Linked DNA regions of Homo sapiens: all the other regions are linked to region 1. The links come from fine-mapping of genetic effects on gene expression. A gene starts in region 1. Each other region holds a variant in brackets. All regions are shown on one strand. Distances are between the middles of the regions.

Region 1 (4,158 bases):
AGTGCAGACATCTACCAGCCACCTGCAGGGCTTGACGAGAGGAGACTGTTTCGGCCACAAGGGCCTGTGACCTCGGAGGCAATGCCGCATGAGAGTGCTGCCTGGCGCGCTGCCTTGGCTGATTTACACACTCCCACTTCGACTCTCTAAAATCAATCTTCCCCCAATTGCCTCCTGGCTCCAGCAACGTCCTGGGTCTGCCCTGCATAAGTAACTAAATGGTCTTCTCCCATATTCTGGGCGGCTTCTGGAGCCCCTGCCACAGCCTCTGATGGGGAGGGGTGAGGGGTGAGGGGCAGCCCTGCCGGAGCCCCTGATGGGGAGGGGAGAGGGCAGGGGACCTGGGTGGGCAGGGGTCATGGGCAGTGCCTCCATATTACTGTCCACAAACAAGGGAGCTCCACTCAGTTGGTGGGTGCCTTCCTTCCATTATTTTGTGTTTGGGATATTGACTTCTTTTTCATATTAGTAAGCACTCAGAGCTGGCAGCTGGCTTAATTTTGACATATTTTATGTCAAAAGAAATGGTGGGAGGCAGGTGCAATGAATGAGCTGGGGGGTATGTTTTCCTTCCTTGAAGGCGCATGGAAAGCTCATTCTGCTCACCCTTTGTTATTATGTATTTTTTAAAGCGCCACTTACTAGGGAGTTGAGTTTCTTAAGCTGAAGGCGGACCTACTGCTTAACTAGGGGTGTTAGAAGTTCTCAGGGGCCCCTAGGCCAGGCAGTGGGGTGTGAATCCTTACCTCTGTTCTTCTTCCTGGAAACTGGCAAGAGGGTGGAGAGAGCTCCTCTTGGACCTTGCCTGGAGGTCAGGGACCCCTGCAAATTGTCCATGTGTTGTGGGAAGGGGTAGAAGGGATGAGGCCCCCCCTCTTCCATTAGCTCTCGTTTTCCTTATCTGGGACCGGGAGGTGGGAGGGGCTGTCTGGAGGGGCCACATTCCTCCTGGCAGCTTTGGTCTCTGGCTGTGCCTGCAGGTTTGAGTGTAAAACCCTCTAGCAGCCCTGTGAGGTGGCCCCATTAGCTCTCTCCTGACAGATGAGGACAGCAGGGATGGTACTGGGCTTCCAGGTAACTGTGCCACGTGCCCTTCACTACCCTGCTTATGGCTGGCTCCCTTGCTCCTATTTAAGGGGCCTATTCTCCTCCCTGCTTCATGGGGACAAACAGAAGCTGCTTCTCCAGTCATAGCCCCTGGCTCCCACCAGCCTGGCCATGGTGACCCACATCCTTGTTTCGATAAAGAAACAAGAAGCATCCCCCAACCCACAACCTTTGATCAGAAGCCACTTCCAGCTGTGGGACAGCTGCAGGGTGGGGTCAGGAGCCCCACACGCCTATCCTGGGCCACCCATCCACCTGTCCACACACATCTGTACACCACACACATCTGTACACCCTTGGCGCCAGGGACGCCCTCCCCCAACAGTGTGGGGCCCCCTTCCTTCACAGGGGCAGTGAGGTCACTCCTCAGGGTATGGCTTCATGAGCTCAGCCTCTGTGTGAGCACTCTCTGGCCTCAGTTTCCTCATCTGTATAATAGACTTAAAGATAGTCTCGACCTCATAGGGCTGTGGTGAGGTTTCTATGAGCTCACATGTGCAACGCATTTGGGCCGTGCTTGTAATGCCCTGACTCTGTTGGCAGTAGGGAGGGCAGCGTCTGCTGCAGGGTCCCTACACCTTCTCTGCAGGACTCTGCACCCAGTACCAGTGCCCAGTGGGGCAGAGGAGTAAGCCTTCTGGCAGACTCTCCCTCCTAAACCCTTCTCGGCTGTGCCCACTTCTCGCCTGCCCTCCTCCCTGGCTTCCCTTCCTCCAGCTTCTCCATTCTGCAGCCCAGGAAACCTAGAAAAGATCCTACCAGACTTAACTCATAGGCCCCACAGTGGAGGCCCCGCAGGGTCTGGCCCTTGCTTCCCTTAGGCTGCCCCTCTCTCGCGCACATTCTCCTGGACGCTGCACATTTAGAGTCCTCCAGTTGCCCCACGGCCTTTGCTCAAGCCCTTTCCCTTCTTAAACAAAAATCGCCACCTCTGCCCCGACCCTAGCCTGGGTCAGTCTCCCTCCTCTCCTCCCACGTGGTTTCTTTATTCCTATGTGTTCTTCTCCCGGGTGGGCTGGTACGCCAGATCGGGGACTGAACCAGAATCAAGATGTCCTCTGCTTCAGGACCTCCCTCCCACCACGAAAAGGCTGCAGATGCTGCCCGCTAACCCGACCTACTGTCTGCAGCCGGCAGCCCGCTCATTTATCCTGGCCGAGCTCTTGGGCCCCCAATCTCCGGGAGCCCCGCCCCATCGGGGCTCCGCCCTTCCCCAGGTACCGCCCCTTCCCGTCCCGTGGAATTTGGCTCTGGAGGAGGTGGGTCAAGGACTCCATGCCCCGCCCCCTGCCCCGCCCTTACCCCGCCCCATGCATTGGCACCCGGAGGGGCTCAGCTGACGCCGCACTTCACGTGACGCCGGTGCCGGGCGAACATGGCGGCGGCCACCGGGTGAGTGCTGCGCCTCCCTCGCTCTTTCCCGCTGGCGTGGAGAGGGGCATGGGTGTCCCGGCCGGACCGCGGGTGAGAGCGTCAGCCGGGGTCGCTGAATGCCGCGGGTAGGCGCCTCTTCCCGTTGGCCCGGAGTCCCAGCGCCGGTCGGCGAGCTGCACGCTCCGAGTCAGGGTCAGCGCGGGGGCCGCAGCTCCTCTCCACCCTCCTGGCTGGCTCCGGCCCCACCTGCCCGCGTCTGGCGGCCCCACCGTGTGCGGCTGCGGTGGGGGCTGGGGTCGACACGCATGTTCGCTGCCAAGACCCCCGGGTAGGAGGGCGGCGTTGCGAGGACCCCAGGGACCCGGGCGCTTCCCGGAGGAGGCGGTATTCGAGACGGACTTGGAATTCCCTTTTCCCAGCAGGGCACTTCCCCATTTCTTTCAGGGGCCAAATGTCACCCCCTCAGGGAATCCTTCTCTAACCATCTATCCCACTTTTTGTGCCCTCATCATCACCTGATAAACTATATAGAGCATTGTTTGTACTTGTTCTTTATCTTCTCTGCATTTAGAGTGCAAGGGCAGGTATGTTACCTGCTTCTCAGTAGCCCGGTGCCTTGCACACAGTAGGTGCTCCATACTGGGCTAAATGAAAGAAAGCTGAGTGGTCGTAGTGGGAGGAAGGGTGGACAGATGGGTTCACCAGAGCGTTGGGCGGAATCTCCCAGATAGGGAGCATCTGAGCCCAGGGTAAGGGACAAAGGTTGAGAGTTCAGAGTGTTCTGGGGACAGGGGTGCATGCCTGGGGCTGGTTGGAAGGTGTGGTGTTCCAGGTGGCGGCTTCAGACTTTGCCCTGATGGGCTGGAAGGGTTTTGTTACAAGCTGCTTGATCTGTTTTTTAAAGATTAGGCTCCCCTGAGCTATGTGTGAGTTCAATGGGAGAAGGTGTGGGTCTGGTGGTACAGTGGGGTAGAGGGGGCATGGTGTAGGAGGGAGCAGTATTCCAGATGCCAGGTTGGAAACTGAGGTCAGAATGGGGGATCTAGTGGACTGAATGCATCTCTCTTTTTAAGATACAGGGAAAATGGCAACAGAAAGTGGGTTCTAAGTTGGCCCCCAAGGTTGAGGGAGCTTAGAGCATACAAATCAAATATTTTGTGGGCACCTGCTATATTCCAGGAATAGCAGTGGGTCTTCCCTTAAGGTACTCACAGGCCACTGGAACAGATGGACACATGGGACTCTGTCATCCATCTGCTTGCCGTGTGGTCTTGCCATTTGCAAAGGAGGGGCATGGACTCTGAGCTCAGATAAAGTGTGGGAAGGCTTCACTTCCTGGGTGACTTTTGTGCTAGTCCTTCAGCAATGAGACTCCCTTCAGGTAGAGAACAGTGCAGACAAAGTCTCAGATGGGTGTCAAGGAACTCAGGGTCAGATCCTTGAATCCAGCCTGTGACCCTTTTAAAGGGTAGACTGAGCAGGCTGGTGCCCAGCTGTGGGTGTGCTGTCTCTCTGGTTAGGCTGGCTCGGTGCTCACAGGGAGTGCCAGGGGTTGCATTTGGGTTCAGGATTCCAAGCTGGCCTGAGACCTGCTGCTCTCCTGAAGGAACCAAGCTGATGTCTGGACGGGAGCAAGTCTGGAACTGACTGGATCCTGGAATGAGAGCTTTTCTTTTT
Region 2 (4,158 bases), 160 kb after region 1:
TGCTCATCTAGGAATGATCAAGTGTTAAAAGCAGGTCATGATGGATGAACATGGCTGCTCTGGAGAGGTTGGCAGGGGCTGATCTCGGAGGAAAAAGAAGTGCTGGGCAGACAAACCCATCAATAGGCATTTCAAGTGGCAGATCACACTGTGGTCGCTCTGATGGAAGCCTTACTCACCCTGGCTGACTAATCTGTTCTTTCTTGTGTGATATGATCCCCATGCTTGAGGGCAAAATGTAAACCTCCAGTTTTATCTCTGGAAGCACTGTTTGAAATCCTAACAGCTGTGATGCTAAGTGTTTGTCTTAGAACATACCCACATCTCATAAGGGAGTCCTATGGATGATAGCAAAAAATCTGACACGGTCTAAGCTTGAGCAGTTGGCAAGTACTGTGAATGTCCATTCTAAAGCACTTTTCAGTTTGTCAGATTTCATTATTCCATGAGTTGAGACACATCATCTGTCTTAAGGATAAGTACATGTCATCTCTGCACACAAAGGTATGTGAGCACATGCAAATAGGTACATATCACCTGCACACATGAGGAGAGCTGCATGCATCTGTGCACACACAGGTGGCTGTCATCTTTGCACATAAGGAGAGATGTGTGCCATCTGGGATCACTTGAGGCCAGGAATTCGAGACCAGCCTGGGCAACATGGCAAAACCCCATCTCTACTAAAAATACAAAAATTAGCCCGGCATGGTGACACACGCCTGTAATCCCAGCTACTTGGGAGGCTGAGGCAGGAGAATGGCGTGAACCCAGGAGGCAGAGGTTGCAGTGAGCTGAGATAGCGCCACTGCACTCCAGCCTGGGTGACAGAGCGAGAATCTGTCTCAAAAAAAAAAAAAAAAAAAAAACATGGTGTTTGTGAGGTATGTGACACCAGTCTTTATCAAGGCAGTGTGATGGGCTTTGGAGACAGAACAGAGTGGTGTTGGCTAGCACTCAACCCAGCTACACCTCCAGTCCTCATCTGGGGAGGATTGACAGTAAATATTTCATAGAATTGTTATGAGGATTAAGTAAACCAACATGAAAAGGAGCTAGCATAGTGCCTGGCACATAGGAGGCACAAAATAACTGTTTTCTAGTGTGTCCATCCAAGAATAATTTGCTACCTAGGAGCCTGTTGTTGGTTTCCAATACTATTCTCCAATAACAGGAGCCGGCTCCTTACAGAAGTGGCTGATTCTAGGGCTGGGGCAGGAAATATACAAGGTGAGCCTGGAACATCTTGCAGTGCCAGAAAGTAAGGAAGTCCTCAGAAAGTGAAGCAATTGGGGAGGTGTGTCTCAGTCAGCTGAGGCTGCCATGACAAAATACCATAGACTTGAGGGCGTAAACAACACAACTTTGTTTCTCATGGTCCGGAGGCTGGGAAGTCCAAGATCAAGGTGCTGGCGAGGTAAATTTTACTCTGAAGCCTCTTTTCTTGGCATGGAGGTAGCTGCAATATCCCCGTGTGCTCACATGATCTCTTCTTTGTGCACTTGTTGGGGAGTCTGTGTGGGGAGAGACCGAATTCTCCAGCATGTCTTCATATAAGGGTACTAATCCCATCCCGAGTGCCCCACCCCATGACCTCATCTTAACCTTGATTACCTCCCAAAGACCCCATCTCCAAATATCATCACATGTGGGGCAGGGCTTCAACATATGAATTTGGGGAGACATAAACATTCCATCCATAAGACTATATCAAAGGGCCACAGGAGCCAAATGAAAGTGCCCCCAGTGCCCAAAGCTGGAACTATTTGAGTGGCAAAACAAATAACGTAGTATTGGATTATAACCCAAAGTATGAGATGAATATCCATGAGTCCCTACGGATGTTAATAAATGATGGAATAAATGTATAAATGACAGAGAAGAGGCAAATCTCCCATGCAGAACTCAAAATAATTGATAGTCTGCCCTCAGGCTGGAGAGCTACACTCCCTGATTCTTAACTGTGGGCTACACAGTGACTTCCTTTCGAAGCGTAGAATATGGAGGAGAAGAAAGAGTAACTTTATGGTGCAGAAACCTGACAAAGACTAGCAGGTGATCGAAGTCCACATCAGCAGTCATAAACCGTGTTGATAGCAAGTATCCTTGATAAGATAAGATGAAAATGGCCCTTTACCCTTTGGTCTTCCTCCTGAGAACTCATAACCCCAGTCTAAGAAAAA[C/T]ACCAAATTCCAATAGAGCAGCATTTTGTAAAATACCTACCTAAGACTTCGCAAAACCGTCAAGATCATCAAAACAAGGAAAGTCAGACAAAGTATCACAGTCTAGAGCAGCAGTCCCCAATCTTTTTGGCAAGAGGGACCAATTTCATGGACGACAGTTTTTCCACAGATAGGGAGCAGGAGGGGAGGAGAGATCATTTCGGGATGCAACTGTCCTACCTCAGATCATCAGGCATTAGAGTCTTATAAGGAGCGTGCAACCTGGATCCCTTGTATGCACAGTTCACGATAGGGTTTGTGCTCCTGTGCGAGTCTAATGCCGCTGCTGATAAGACAGGAGGCAGAGTTCAGGCAGTAACTTTTGCTCACCTGCCACTCATCTCCTGCTGGGCAGCCCGGTTGCTAATGGGTCTGTGGCTCAGGAAATAGGGACACCTGGTCTAGAGGATCCTAAAGAGACATGATGACTAAATGTGATGTGGTATCCTAGATGGGATCCTGAAACAGAAAGAGGATATTAGAAACTAAGGAAATCCAGATTTGAAGTACGGGCAATATTTAATAATGGACTTCAATTAATGATAATGTATCAATATATCTTCGTTAACTATAACAAATATATGAATGTAAGGTGTTAGTAATAGGTGAAACTGGGAAATCTATACCTCCTTCTCAATTTTTTATAAATCTTAAGTTGTTTTGAGTCATGCACAGTGCCTGTAATCCTAGCACTTTGGGAGGCTGAGGTGGGAGGATTGCTTGAGGTCAAGTTTGAGACCAGCCTGGCCAACATAGTGAGGCCCCATCTCTACAAAAAAAAATTAAAAATTAGCCGAGCATGGGCGTGTGCCTGTGGTCCCAGCTACTTGGAAGACTGAGGCGGGAGGGTGGCTTGAGCCTAGAAGGTCGAGGCTACAGTGAGCTGCGATAGTGCCATCCCACTCCAACCTGGGCAACAGACCGAGACCCTATCTCTTACAATAATTAATTAAAAATAAAATAGTTCTGAGAAATTTTTTTAAGTATTTGGGATGCATTGCAGTCTTAACATTAACCTAAAACAGTACTGTTTTAAAACATTAACAACCCAGGCCAGATTTTAGCCAAATGGGTAAAGAAGAAAGCAGCAGAAGAGCCTCAGGCCCCACTCCCTCCCTCAGTCCACGAGCGGTGACTGTGCTTCTGCCAGGCAAACCCAAATCATGCAGAGAAATGGAGCAGAGAGGGAGAGTAGATCTACAGGAGCTCCTCCAGGAGGAGAGAGGGATAGAAAGAAGGAAGGGGAGGTGGAGGGGTCCACTTTGAGACTGCAGGGTGACGGAGAAGCCCAGGACACCATTTTTGGGTCTAGTGGGGAAGCCCCATCCTCCGCTGAAGGTCCAAACACCAGGTCAACCCCTGGAAGCCACAAGACTGAGCTGAGAAGGAAATGAGAAGCTTCCCAGACAGAGGGACATGGTTGTCCCTGGCACTCATTCTCCTATTCTCTTTCATCTGTCTCAGTCAATAGATGTTGATTGAATTCCTGCTCTGAGCCAGGCCCTGTCCCAAGTTCTGGGAGTCCTGTGAGGACCAAGCCAAGGGGCTGGAGAAGGGGGCAGGGGGGAGCTGGTGCCCAACAGATGAGACAGGGCCAAGGAGACACAGCCAGGCCAGGTGGGCTTGTGGCCTAGAATCCCTGTGCTTAGCGTCAGGAATCTGCGTCCACTCCTAGGCCGCCGTGACTGCTCCTTTTTCATCTTATTTTTCGTTTAGATTCCCACGGTAATAATCAGTTCCTGTGTCAGCCTCAACTGGGATTCATATTGACTTGGGTTTAGCAGGTGGAGTCGCCAGTCTATTTGCATAAATGTTGGGGTTTTGGCTGGAAGAGGAAGGTGGGGTTGTTGTCTTTCCTTTGCAGAGGTTTCTGGGGGGGAACTGAGGTGCAGAAGAAACTGGGATTTGGGGAGAGACAAGTGCTGTTTTGTAGTCC
Region 3 (4,158 bases), 130 kb after region 1:
GGAGGGGTGGGGCAGGTGCAGGGGTGCTTCGGGAAAGCCAGAATGAGGTTTGGTGCTTGCTGGGGGTTGGGGCACGCAGGGCAGCTGGTGCCCAATTTCTGCTGTGTGATTCTCAGTGTGGCATCTGGGTATAGGCTGGCTAGGGGCCGGGGGTGCCTTCCAGCCTGGACTAGAGAGCTTGACGGTGTCTCCAGGCTGCCAGGGTGGGAGGAGCCTGAGAGTGGGCCCAGGCCAGCAAGGGAACCCTCAAGTTGGTGCCCACCCTGCCAGCCTAGTGCAAGGACAGTGACCCTCACACACTCCAGGGGCCCCCGCCCAGGCGGTGGGTGTCGTAACCACCATCCGGGCCAGAGGCTGGGGCCAAGTTGCTGGAGGTTGAATCACTGTCACAACCCTAACCACACACAGGCAGAAACTCCCTGCTCCCGGCCAAGAGAGCTGTGTGCAAGGCCTTCCCCGAGGGTGCACAGGCAAGGAAGACCAGCGGCGCCAAGGGGACCCCCGGGCCGGCACATCTGGGCGGCGCCGGGCCTGCCCCCGGGAAGGGCCACCGCAGAGCATGATTTATACCTGATTCCCGCCCTCTGCGGAGGCTGGGCCAAGAACGTAGCCCACTGCTGAAGTTAGCCTGGTTGGAAAGCTGGCTGCACTTCCCGGGGCTCCCCTTTGGTGACCAGAGAAGGGCGCGTCCGAGAGGAAGCAGTTGAGCTGGGCTTGGGGCACGAGCCACTCACAGGAGGCCTCCCAGCCCCATGTGCCAACTTTGCAGGCTGTTGGGAGACCTGAGGGGCACTCACTTTATGCCAGGCCCAGCGGTGCCCTCGGGAGACCCCCACCCTCGGAGTGAGACATGAGAAGCAAACGAGCAGATCCGTCCAGGGGACGGCTGCAGGCTGGATGGACCGTGCAAGGAGAAATCACCAGGCCTGGGACAGCAAGGCAGGAAGGTCTCCTCTGAGAGGGGACAGCTTTTATGCAGAGACCCCTTGGATGAGGCATCACAGGTCAAGGCCTGGCACAGGCCATAGCAAAGGGCCTGAGGTAAAACGGCCTGTGTGCCTTGGGGTGGTCTGGCCTCTGGAGGATGCAGCAGCAGAGAGGAAGGGCGAGGTGGGCCAGGATTGTCCGGGCTGGGTTCTCAGAGAAGAGCAGCAGCAGAGGCTGGGCAGGCTTGGCGCACACCCCCAGGAACAAGTGAATGTCAAGTGTGGAACCAGGGCTGGCTGGTCATGCGCGATGGAGGAATGGTGGCCAATGCCACTGTCCGGGGTGCTGCCTCCAGCCCCCAGGTGACACAGAGGCTCTGAGAGCAACCCCCCGGGGCCTGCCTTGTGGCTGTTTGTTTGTTTGACCAGCGGCAGCTGAGGCTCACGGAGGTGGGGCTGTTTGACCAGCGGCAGCTGAGGCTCACGGAGGCGGGGGAGCGGCCAAGTGGGCTGCAGTTATCCAGGTGTCCTTTTCCGGGATGTTGTGCCCCTCAGAAAAGCCAGGGGTGCGGGCTGGGCCAGCCAGGGGTGTGTGTGCCCAGGGCTGCCCCAGATACAGGGCAGCTGCAGCCAGAGTTGCCCCAGGTCTGCCCGGGCTCTCCCCCACGCCAGACCCCGGGCTCTCCCCCACGCCAGACCCCAGACCCCGGGCCCTCCCCCACGCCAGACCCCAGACCCCAGACCCCGGGACGGCCTCCCCGACGCCAGACCCCAGACCCCGGGACGGCCTCCCCCACGCCAGACCCCAGACCCCGGGACGGCCGCCCCCACCTCAGCCCCTAGGAGGCTGGGCTGATGGGGAGCTGGGCTCTGAGGAGGATCCCTGCTCTGTGTGGGGGGTGGGGGCAGGTCTGGGCATCTCCACCCCTGCCACCCTTAGGCTGCTGCCGTGGCTGGGGCGCTGTGCTGTGAATGGCGGGCAACAGCCATACTGCCTGCCCAAAGCCGTGCACCCCCAGCCCGCCTGAGACCCCAGCACCACAGTGGCCAACTCTGGCACT[TA/A]AAGGGGTCCCAACATGAAGGACTTGTGCCCAGTGTGTCGGGGGTGATGGCCTGTGTCCCAGTGTGGACTCTCATCCCTGTTCGCCAGCCGAGCCCATCATCTGCCCTCCGCCAGCCACAGAGGTTCAGAACCCTGCTTCTCACAGCCCAGCCCTCGCCAGCTCAGGGTCTCCCCGGCCCCTCCCACAGCAGTGATCGGGACCATGCAGAGCAGGCTCTGGCTCTGCGCCAAGGCAAGCCTGGCAGGGAGGCCCTCGGGAGCCAAGGTCACTCCGCCTGGTGGGGCTGGACCTCTCCAGGAGGTGCCGCAGGGACTTGCTGGGCGCCCTCTCCAGCCAGTGAGCTGCACATTGATAGGGGCCCCCCGCCACGTGCCTGGCCAGAGTGTCCTGGGGCCCCGGCCTCTGCCAGCACGTGGCCTGCCCAAACCCAGCCCCCATGGGGCCAGGGCAGGAGGCCTCACCGGCCTCGAGTCCTTATCTGGTGCTCAAGCCAAGTCCAGCAGTGGAAGCTACCATGAGGAGAGGCTGATGCTGGGATTCCACAGAGTCCGGGGATGGGACGGGCGCACCCGTGGGCTGCTGAGGCTCTACGTGGAGAGCTCTCTAAGGGCCTCCTTCCTAGCGGCCATGCTCCAGAGCCCCACAGAGCCTGTGTGGCCCCCAAAGCTCTGTGCTTAGGAAGTTCTCTCTTTGGTGGCCTTTGCCCCACAAACATGCGGCAGAGATGAGTTGGATTTGAAGCCGGGAGTTGGACATCTGGCTCCCCTGGAGATGGTGCCCCTGCTGTTGGCAGGCGGGGCCCCGAACCCCTGCCAGCCAGCTCGTGGGGCCGTGCCAGCCGCACCTTCTCCCCAGAAACCTTTGCTCCCTGCAGCAGCTCCAGGGGTGTTTCATCCCCATTCTGGGATGTGCAGGGACCCCTCTTTTCAGCCTCGGGCTTCCCCACTGCACCACAGCAGCAAAACCCCATCGGAGCTCTGAGCCAGGGTTTGGGTCTGAGCCTCAGGGCCAGAGCCCACAGAGTCTCCTGGTGTCTGCTACTGGGGAGACGTGCATGTTTCTCCTGGTGCCCAGGGATTTGGCTAGGTTTCCCTGGGCCCAGAAGCATAGGCTGTTCAGGGTGGACACACCATGGGCTACAGAGTAGACCCAGGCTGGGCCCTTGGCTACAGGTGACAGGAACCTGCCCCTAGAGGCAGAATGGAGGGACAAGAAGGGTCCCGAGGGCCAGAGCTTTTGCTGGGAAAGCCCAGCACGGGGGGCCACCCTAGTCCTTGTCCCCCTGGGCCCCCGATGTAGTACCCTTGCCCCCTCACCCCCCACCTCAGGCCCTCCCACCACAGCCAGTGTGAGGGCTTCACATCTCCCAGCCCCTGGCCCTGCGGTGTTGGCTGCTGGGCTCTGTGGCTCACGGCAGCTCCCTCTGGCCCACAGGTGTCTGGTGGCCTGACATGCACCGCCTGGCTGACCGCATCCACCTGGAGGAGCTGGCCCACATGGGCATCCTGAGCGGCAGCGTGGACGCCATGGTCCAGGCTCACCTGGGGGCCGTGTTTATGCCTCACGGGCTTGGCCACTTCCTGGGCATTGACGTGCACGACGTGGGAGGCTACCCAGAGGTCAGTGTGGACATGGCAGGCGGAGTGGCCTGCCCATCAGCTGCCGCTGAGCCTGACCCCCAGGGCAGGGTGGGACTCTAGGAGGCAGCAGGCGTGTATTGGGATGGCAGGGATGGGCCCCATGGCTCCCTGTGGTATACGGAGGCCATGAGGAGGGGGGAATCGGGACCCTGGCCAAGACAGGGGTGCATCTGTGAGCATTCCACAGAACTGGACATAGAGGCGGTGCTGTCTGCCTGCTGGGCCCAGGTGTCACCTGTCCAGAAGGTGGCACACAGTCAGGATACGGTGCATGGGGCCCCACAGGACAGTGGTGCTAAGGACAGGTCTTCGTGATGGAGCTACGTGGCACCCCTCACGTCCTGCCGCCTCTGGCTTCATTCAGACCTGGGGCGTGGGGAGTTGATGAGGCCCCACCCACTGGCGACTCACCCTGGCCCCTCACAAACCCGGAGCAGCCCTGCTCTGCCGCTGGTTCGCCCTCTCCTCCCAGGCCCCTGGGCCGCACACCTGGGACCCTGCAGCCTCCTCATCCCCAGGCATTCTGGG
Region 4 (4,158 bases), 74 kb after region 1:
GCAGCTTGGCCACCAGCAAGGCTGGTCTGCACACAGTGGACAGGCCAGTGGCAGTGGCCACTCCTGCACCCAAGCGGGGGCATCACATGCTCTGCTTCCTGTCTGTTACCTCCCTGGTCACTCCCAGAGGCAAGCATTCATCCCCTTGGGTCCTGCTACCTGAGACCTGTGATATAATTATTGATCATGTCACCCCGGACAGATTTCATTCCCTGGTTTCTCTGTGGCTTCCTTATCAGTTTCAGAAGGTAACGTGGCACCCGCTGGGATCGGAGCCATGCACATTGGGACACCGCCTGGGGTGGTCCCTGTGAGCACCTGCGATAGTCTATGACCGACTTCTTTCATCTGAGCAGTGAAAGCTTTCTGCATCTCAGGGTCATCTTTGAAATTCCTCCTCCTCACGTACTAGGTCTCCTGGATGTGATCCGGGGCTGTTAGCTTCCTCTCATGATGTCCACTTGCGCACCAGTGAGAAACTCAAGCCTGTCTCCCATTCTCCTGCTGTGACCCTGCACACTCGTTCTGCTGCTGTTTTCTTGTGTGCATTTTGTGGCTTGGTCCCTTCCTGTTTTGGCGCAGGCTTCTCCGGTGAGCTCTCCTCATGGATCCTGAGAAAACATGGGCTGGTGGATCTTTTTAGGTTTCCTCTCATTTTTCACCCAGGAGACCTCTCTGGCTCTTTCTGCACAGCTGGCCAAGAGCTGTCTGATTGACCCCACCATGCGGGGCTCTGCTGAAATTGCTCAGGCCCAGAAGAAAGGGGGAGGAACGGTTTAGGTTGCTTGTAGGTTCACTGTGCAAGATGGGCGACCCCAGAGGAGCTGAGGAGGGGGCTATGAGTTGCACCAGGTGGTCCAGACAGTACCGAGTCACCTCGGTGGACATGGAAGATGTCTTCTCTACAGTGGGCCAGCTACCTGGAGTTGGCTTTGGCCACACCCCCATTTGCTGCCTGCCTTCCCCCGAGGCCCCTGTGAGAGTGGACTGCAGCCTCTGGGGGCCTCTGTCCCGTCAGGGTCTTGGTTGGGGAGTGTGGGGAAACCCTGGGTCCCCACCTCTCATTCTCCAGGAAGAATTTTCTAGCAAGAGAAAGGCCAGAGTTTATATACTGGTGGCCTCTGGGCCACATCCAGTACACACGCAGTTTCCGTTTGGCCCAGGCAATAGGTATTTTAACACTTTATTTTGGTTCATTGAAGTCAACCAAATTTGAAAAATCAGATTTTTTTGGCTTTTCCTGAAAATCAGAGTAGCTGGTAACCGTGGGCTGGAATTTCCACAGAGCAGCAGCGTGGTGCTTGCTACATAGCTTTCGTTCAGGGTGCACGCCACAGGCCCCACCGCTCCCCGTCACCTCCCCGAGCACTGAAGCCGACTCTTTTCATGGCTTTCATGCTGTTGGTTCTTTCATAAATGAGAAAGCCTTCTCATACCAGCATCTCTATCAAAAGAGAAAAAAAAGATAGTCGAAAGGGTCATGTATTTCAAGAAAAATAGGAGAGCTCTGGGGAAAAAAAAAGACTTTTTTTTCTGTTTTGCATGCCACTACCTGGCCAGCTTCACTCCTGTGGGTGCCTCCAGGCCTCTGGAGCTGGTCCCCCACTCTAAAGGAGCCTTTCCTGTTCTTCCATGCCGGAAGGAGCCCGTGGTAGATGGGAGGGTGTTTAGCTGGGCAGGTGGACCAGACGCCCACCTCGGAGGTGGCTGTGTCCTGTCTGGTTCTGCCCGTGAGAAGGCGTGGCTCCAAGTCCTGGGCGCATCTAGTGAGGAGCAGCCCCGCAGGAGCAGTTATTGAGGTTTGGCTCCCAGAACAGGCAGGCAGTAGTGATTATGCTGTGAGGTTTGGTGCCGGTTTTTAGAAAATCCTCATCCAGACCTATCACCTGCTGGTGCGAAAGACGCTCCCTGCGGGAGTAATTATTCCGGGCCGTGAGTTTTTCTCCTCCTAGCTCTGAGTTCTGTGGATGACATGAATGGTTTCATCCAGGAAGGGCTGTCTCCATACCTGCCGGCAGGCATGTCTGCTCTTGAAGCCTGGAGGTAATTTATGATAAAACCAAAGTTGAGGCTCCTCCCCATCCCTGTTAGATACTCCGACAGCAGGCTCTGTGTTCCGGGGCTGTGAAGCTGAGTTTGCGTCCTCAGGAACCTCCC[G/A]CACAAGGCCATCCTCTGCCTTTGTGGTTCAGGCTGAGGGTTTGGACTCTGTCTGTGGCATGGAGGATGGGCAGTGTGGGTCTTCGTGCTTCCTCTGGCAGCTGTCCAGGAGGGAGCCATGGGCCTGGCCACAGCTGCCTTCTTCAGCTGCCCCAGAGTAGGGTGAGGAAGCATCTTGGGGGTGGCTGAGCAGGAGGGAAACTGGCCTGGCCCCACCCACTCAGCCACCGTCCTCTCGCAGCTCCCTCTGGCTGTGGATTTCTGTTGGCTTCCGTGTTACAGGTTTTGAACAGGCCTAGATGCCCAGGAGCCAGGCTGCTGGTGGGCACAGGCTCCATCCCATGTCAGTGACAGGCCTCAGACTTGGCCTGGGCTAGCACGCCCCTGCCCTGCCTGCACAAATGCTATTGTCACTGCCATGCATCCCGGGCTCCTGCACCTGCAGGAACTTGGCAGGGGGACAGCGGGAAATGGATCTGGGGTCATTGTCACTGCTGCCCACAGAACCAGCCAGCTTCCTTCATGTGAATTCCACCCTCTTGTTAGAAAAGCCCGTTTTGTGGAGGCAGAGCCCCAGGGTCCATGAGTCTGTGTCCCTCCTCACCCACAGTCATCCGGCACTGGTGCAGCAGTGTTCCCCTGGGGCCACCCTCCATGAGTGTGCCACAAGCCTTGTGGATGCACCTGTGACAGCACTTGGGGTCCCCTCATTGGTGAGTGGTGATTGCTGACCTCCATGTCTGCACCTGGGGATAGAACTCTTCCCATGTCACAACCTTCAGAAGCAGCACGGTGGCACAGGTGGCCCTCCTGGGCATCCCAGCTAGGGCGAAGTGCACCATAGCTACTTCTCCAGCCCAAGGTGACCGCAGTTCATTGCTGGAGGGCCCTGGCGGTCTAGTCCCCCACACAGCCAATGTCTGGGTGGCTGGTTGAGTCGGAGCCTGGCTGGGCTTTGCTGGTGCTGTTTTACTTTCTTACTGTCCATCCCAGCAAGATAAGAGGGGCTAGATGCCCTTCGTGGGGCCTGCTGATGGCTGTGGAGACTGGCGCATAGACTGGACAGTGGGAGGCACATCGGAAAGCCGTGGTCCTGGGACCCTATCAGCAGAGGTGGCAGAAAGGCCTCACCACCCTCGGTGCGGGGTCCTGATGCCCGCTGGGCCCTCCCCTCTGGGTGGTGAGCAGCCGTGGCTGAGAGCATGCTGCTTTTGCAAAAGGGGTCCCAGCTTCAAGGCTGGGGACCGAAGTTCCTCCTGGATGCACTGTGCAAACAGGGGACCCCTCACTTCTGCTAGGCCAGCATGTGACTGTGGGGCTCTCGGCCACCCTGTGCTGAGAGGTCGCAGAGGCTTGGGGATGGCATGGGCACCTGGTGCTGGTTGAAGCTGGGCAAGTGTCATGATCCCACGGGTGAAAAGACTCCAGAGAGTGTCCACGTGCCCGGGTGGGTCTAGGTCTTAGCAGCCAGGATGACCCGTCCGGTGAGGATGCAGCCAGTGCGTCTCTCCCCAGTGTTGGCTGATTCATAATAGGCTTTAAGCAGTCCATATATTTTCAGCATGAGCTGGAGTCTTTGAATCATTTATCTTGGCAGCTCTTCTTAAAGCTGGAGAAAGGTAGAAATTCATCTAGGTGCTGAGAAAGGAGCCCAGAAGAAAAAAGTGTCTGGCGGCTGCCGTGATGGGTGGCGTGCCTGGAGATAGTGCTGGTGGCTCCGAGATCAAACAGATGAGAAATGGCTTCCCAGGAAGAACTCGGGGAATTCTAAGTAGGTAATGAGTAGTGACTGTCTTTTGATTTACGGCAAGACTTGGCAATCAATCTGTAATGCTTTGAAGAGGAAAGAAATGAATCCCGAACAGGCTGCGGGGTCCAGGTGGTTTGGACAGGCGGCCCTTCCTTGGTGGTGGGGGCAGGGGCAGGCAGGCTAGAGGTCGTGGATTTCTCTCTTCTGCCACGGGGAATAATTCAGGCCGCTCCTGGTGGGCAGCAGGCTGT

The links. PIP is the estimated chance that this variant, and not a neighbour inherited with it, causes the effect.
Region 2: its variant is the best candidate, but not a certain one, in a credible set for the expression of PEPD in whole blood (INTERVAL, PIP 0.69).
Region 3: its variant is the best candidate, but not a certain one, in a credible set for the expression of PEPD in anterior cingulate cortex (GTEx, PIP 0.88).
Region 4: its variant is the best candidate, but not a certain one, in a credible set for the expression of PEPD in whole blood (INTERVAL, PIP 0.90).

What each region holds. Positions count from the first base shown.
Region 1 is chr19:33,520,085-33,524,242 of GRCh38, reverse strand. It overlaps PEPD (peptidase D), which reads left to right and starts at 2,452. Exons shown (of 15, transcript NM_000285.4): 1 at 2,452-2,499. The coding sequence starts at 2,483. It overlaps LOC105372370 (a long non-coding RNA gene), which reads right to left and starts at 2,309. Exons shown (of 3, transcript XR_935918.3): 1 at 2,229-2,309; 2 at 747-822. RefSeq lists enhancers at 1,225-2,187, 2,188-3,151 and a silencer at 2,243-2,442.
Region 2 is chr19:33,364,242-33,368,399 of GRCh38, reverse strand. No RefSeq gene overlaps it. Among named protein-coding and RNA genes, the nearest start is that of CEBPG, 7.4 kb to the left of the region's middle. The variant C/T (reference allele first, on the strand shown) is at 2,184.
Region 3 is chr19:33,390,746-33,394,903 of GRCh38, reverse strand. It overlaps PEPD (peptidase D), which reads left to right. Exons shown (of 15, transcript NM_000285.4): 13 at 3,425-3,609. Among named protein-coding and RNA genes, the nearest start is that of CEBPG, 19 kb to the right of the region's middle. RefSeq lists an enhancer at 1,629-2,393. The variant TA/A (reference allele first, on the strand shown) is at 1,988.
Region 4 is chr19:33,445,894-33,450,051 of GRCh38, reverse strand. All of the region lies in intron 9 of PEPD (peptidase D), which reads left to right. Among named protein-coding and RNA genes, the nearest start is that of PEPD, 74 kb to the left of the region's middle. The variant G/A (reference allele first, on the strand shown) is at 2,158.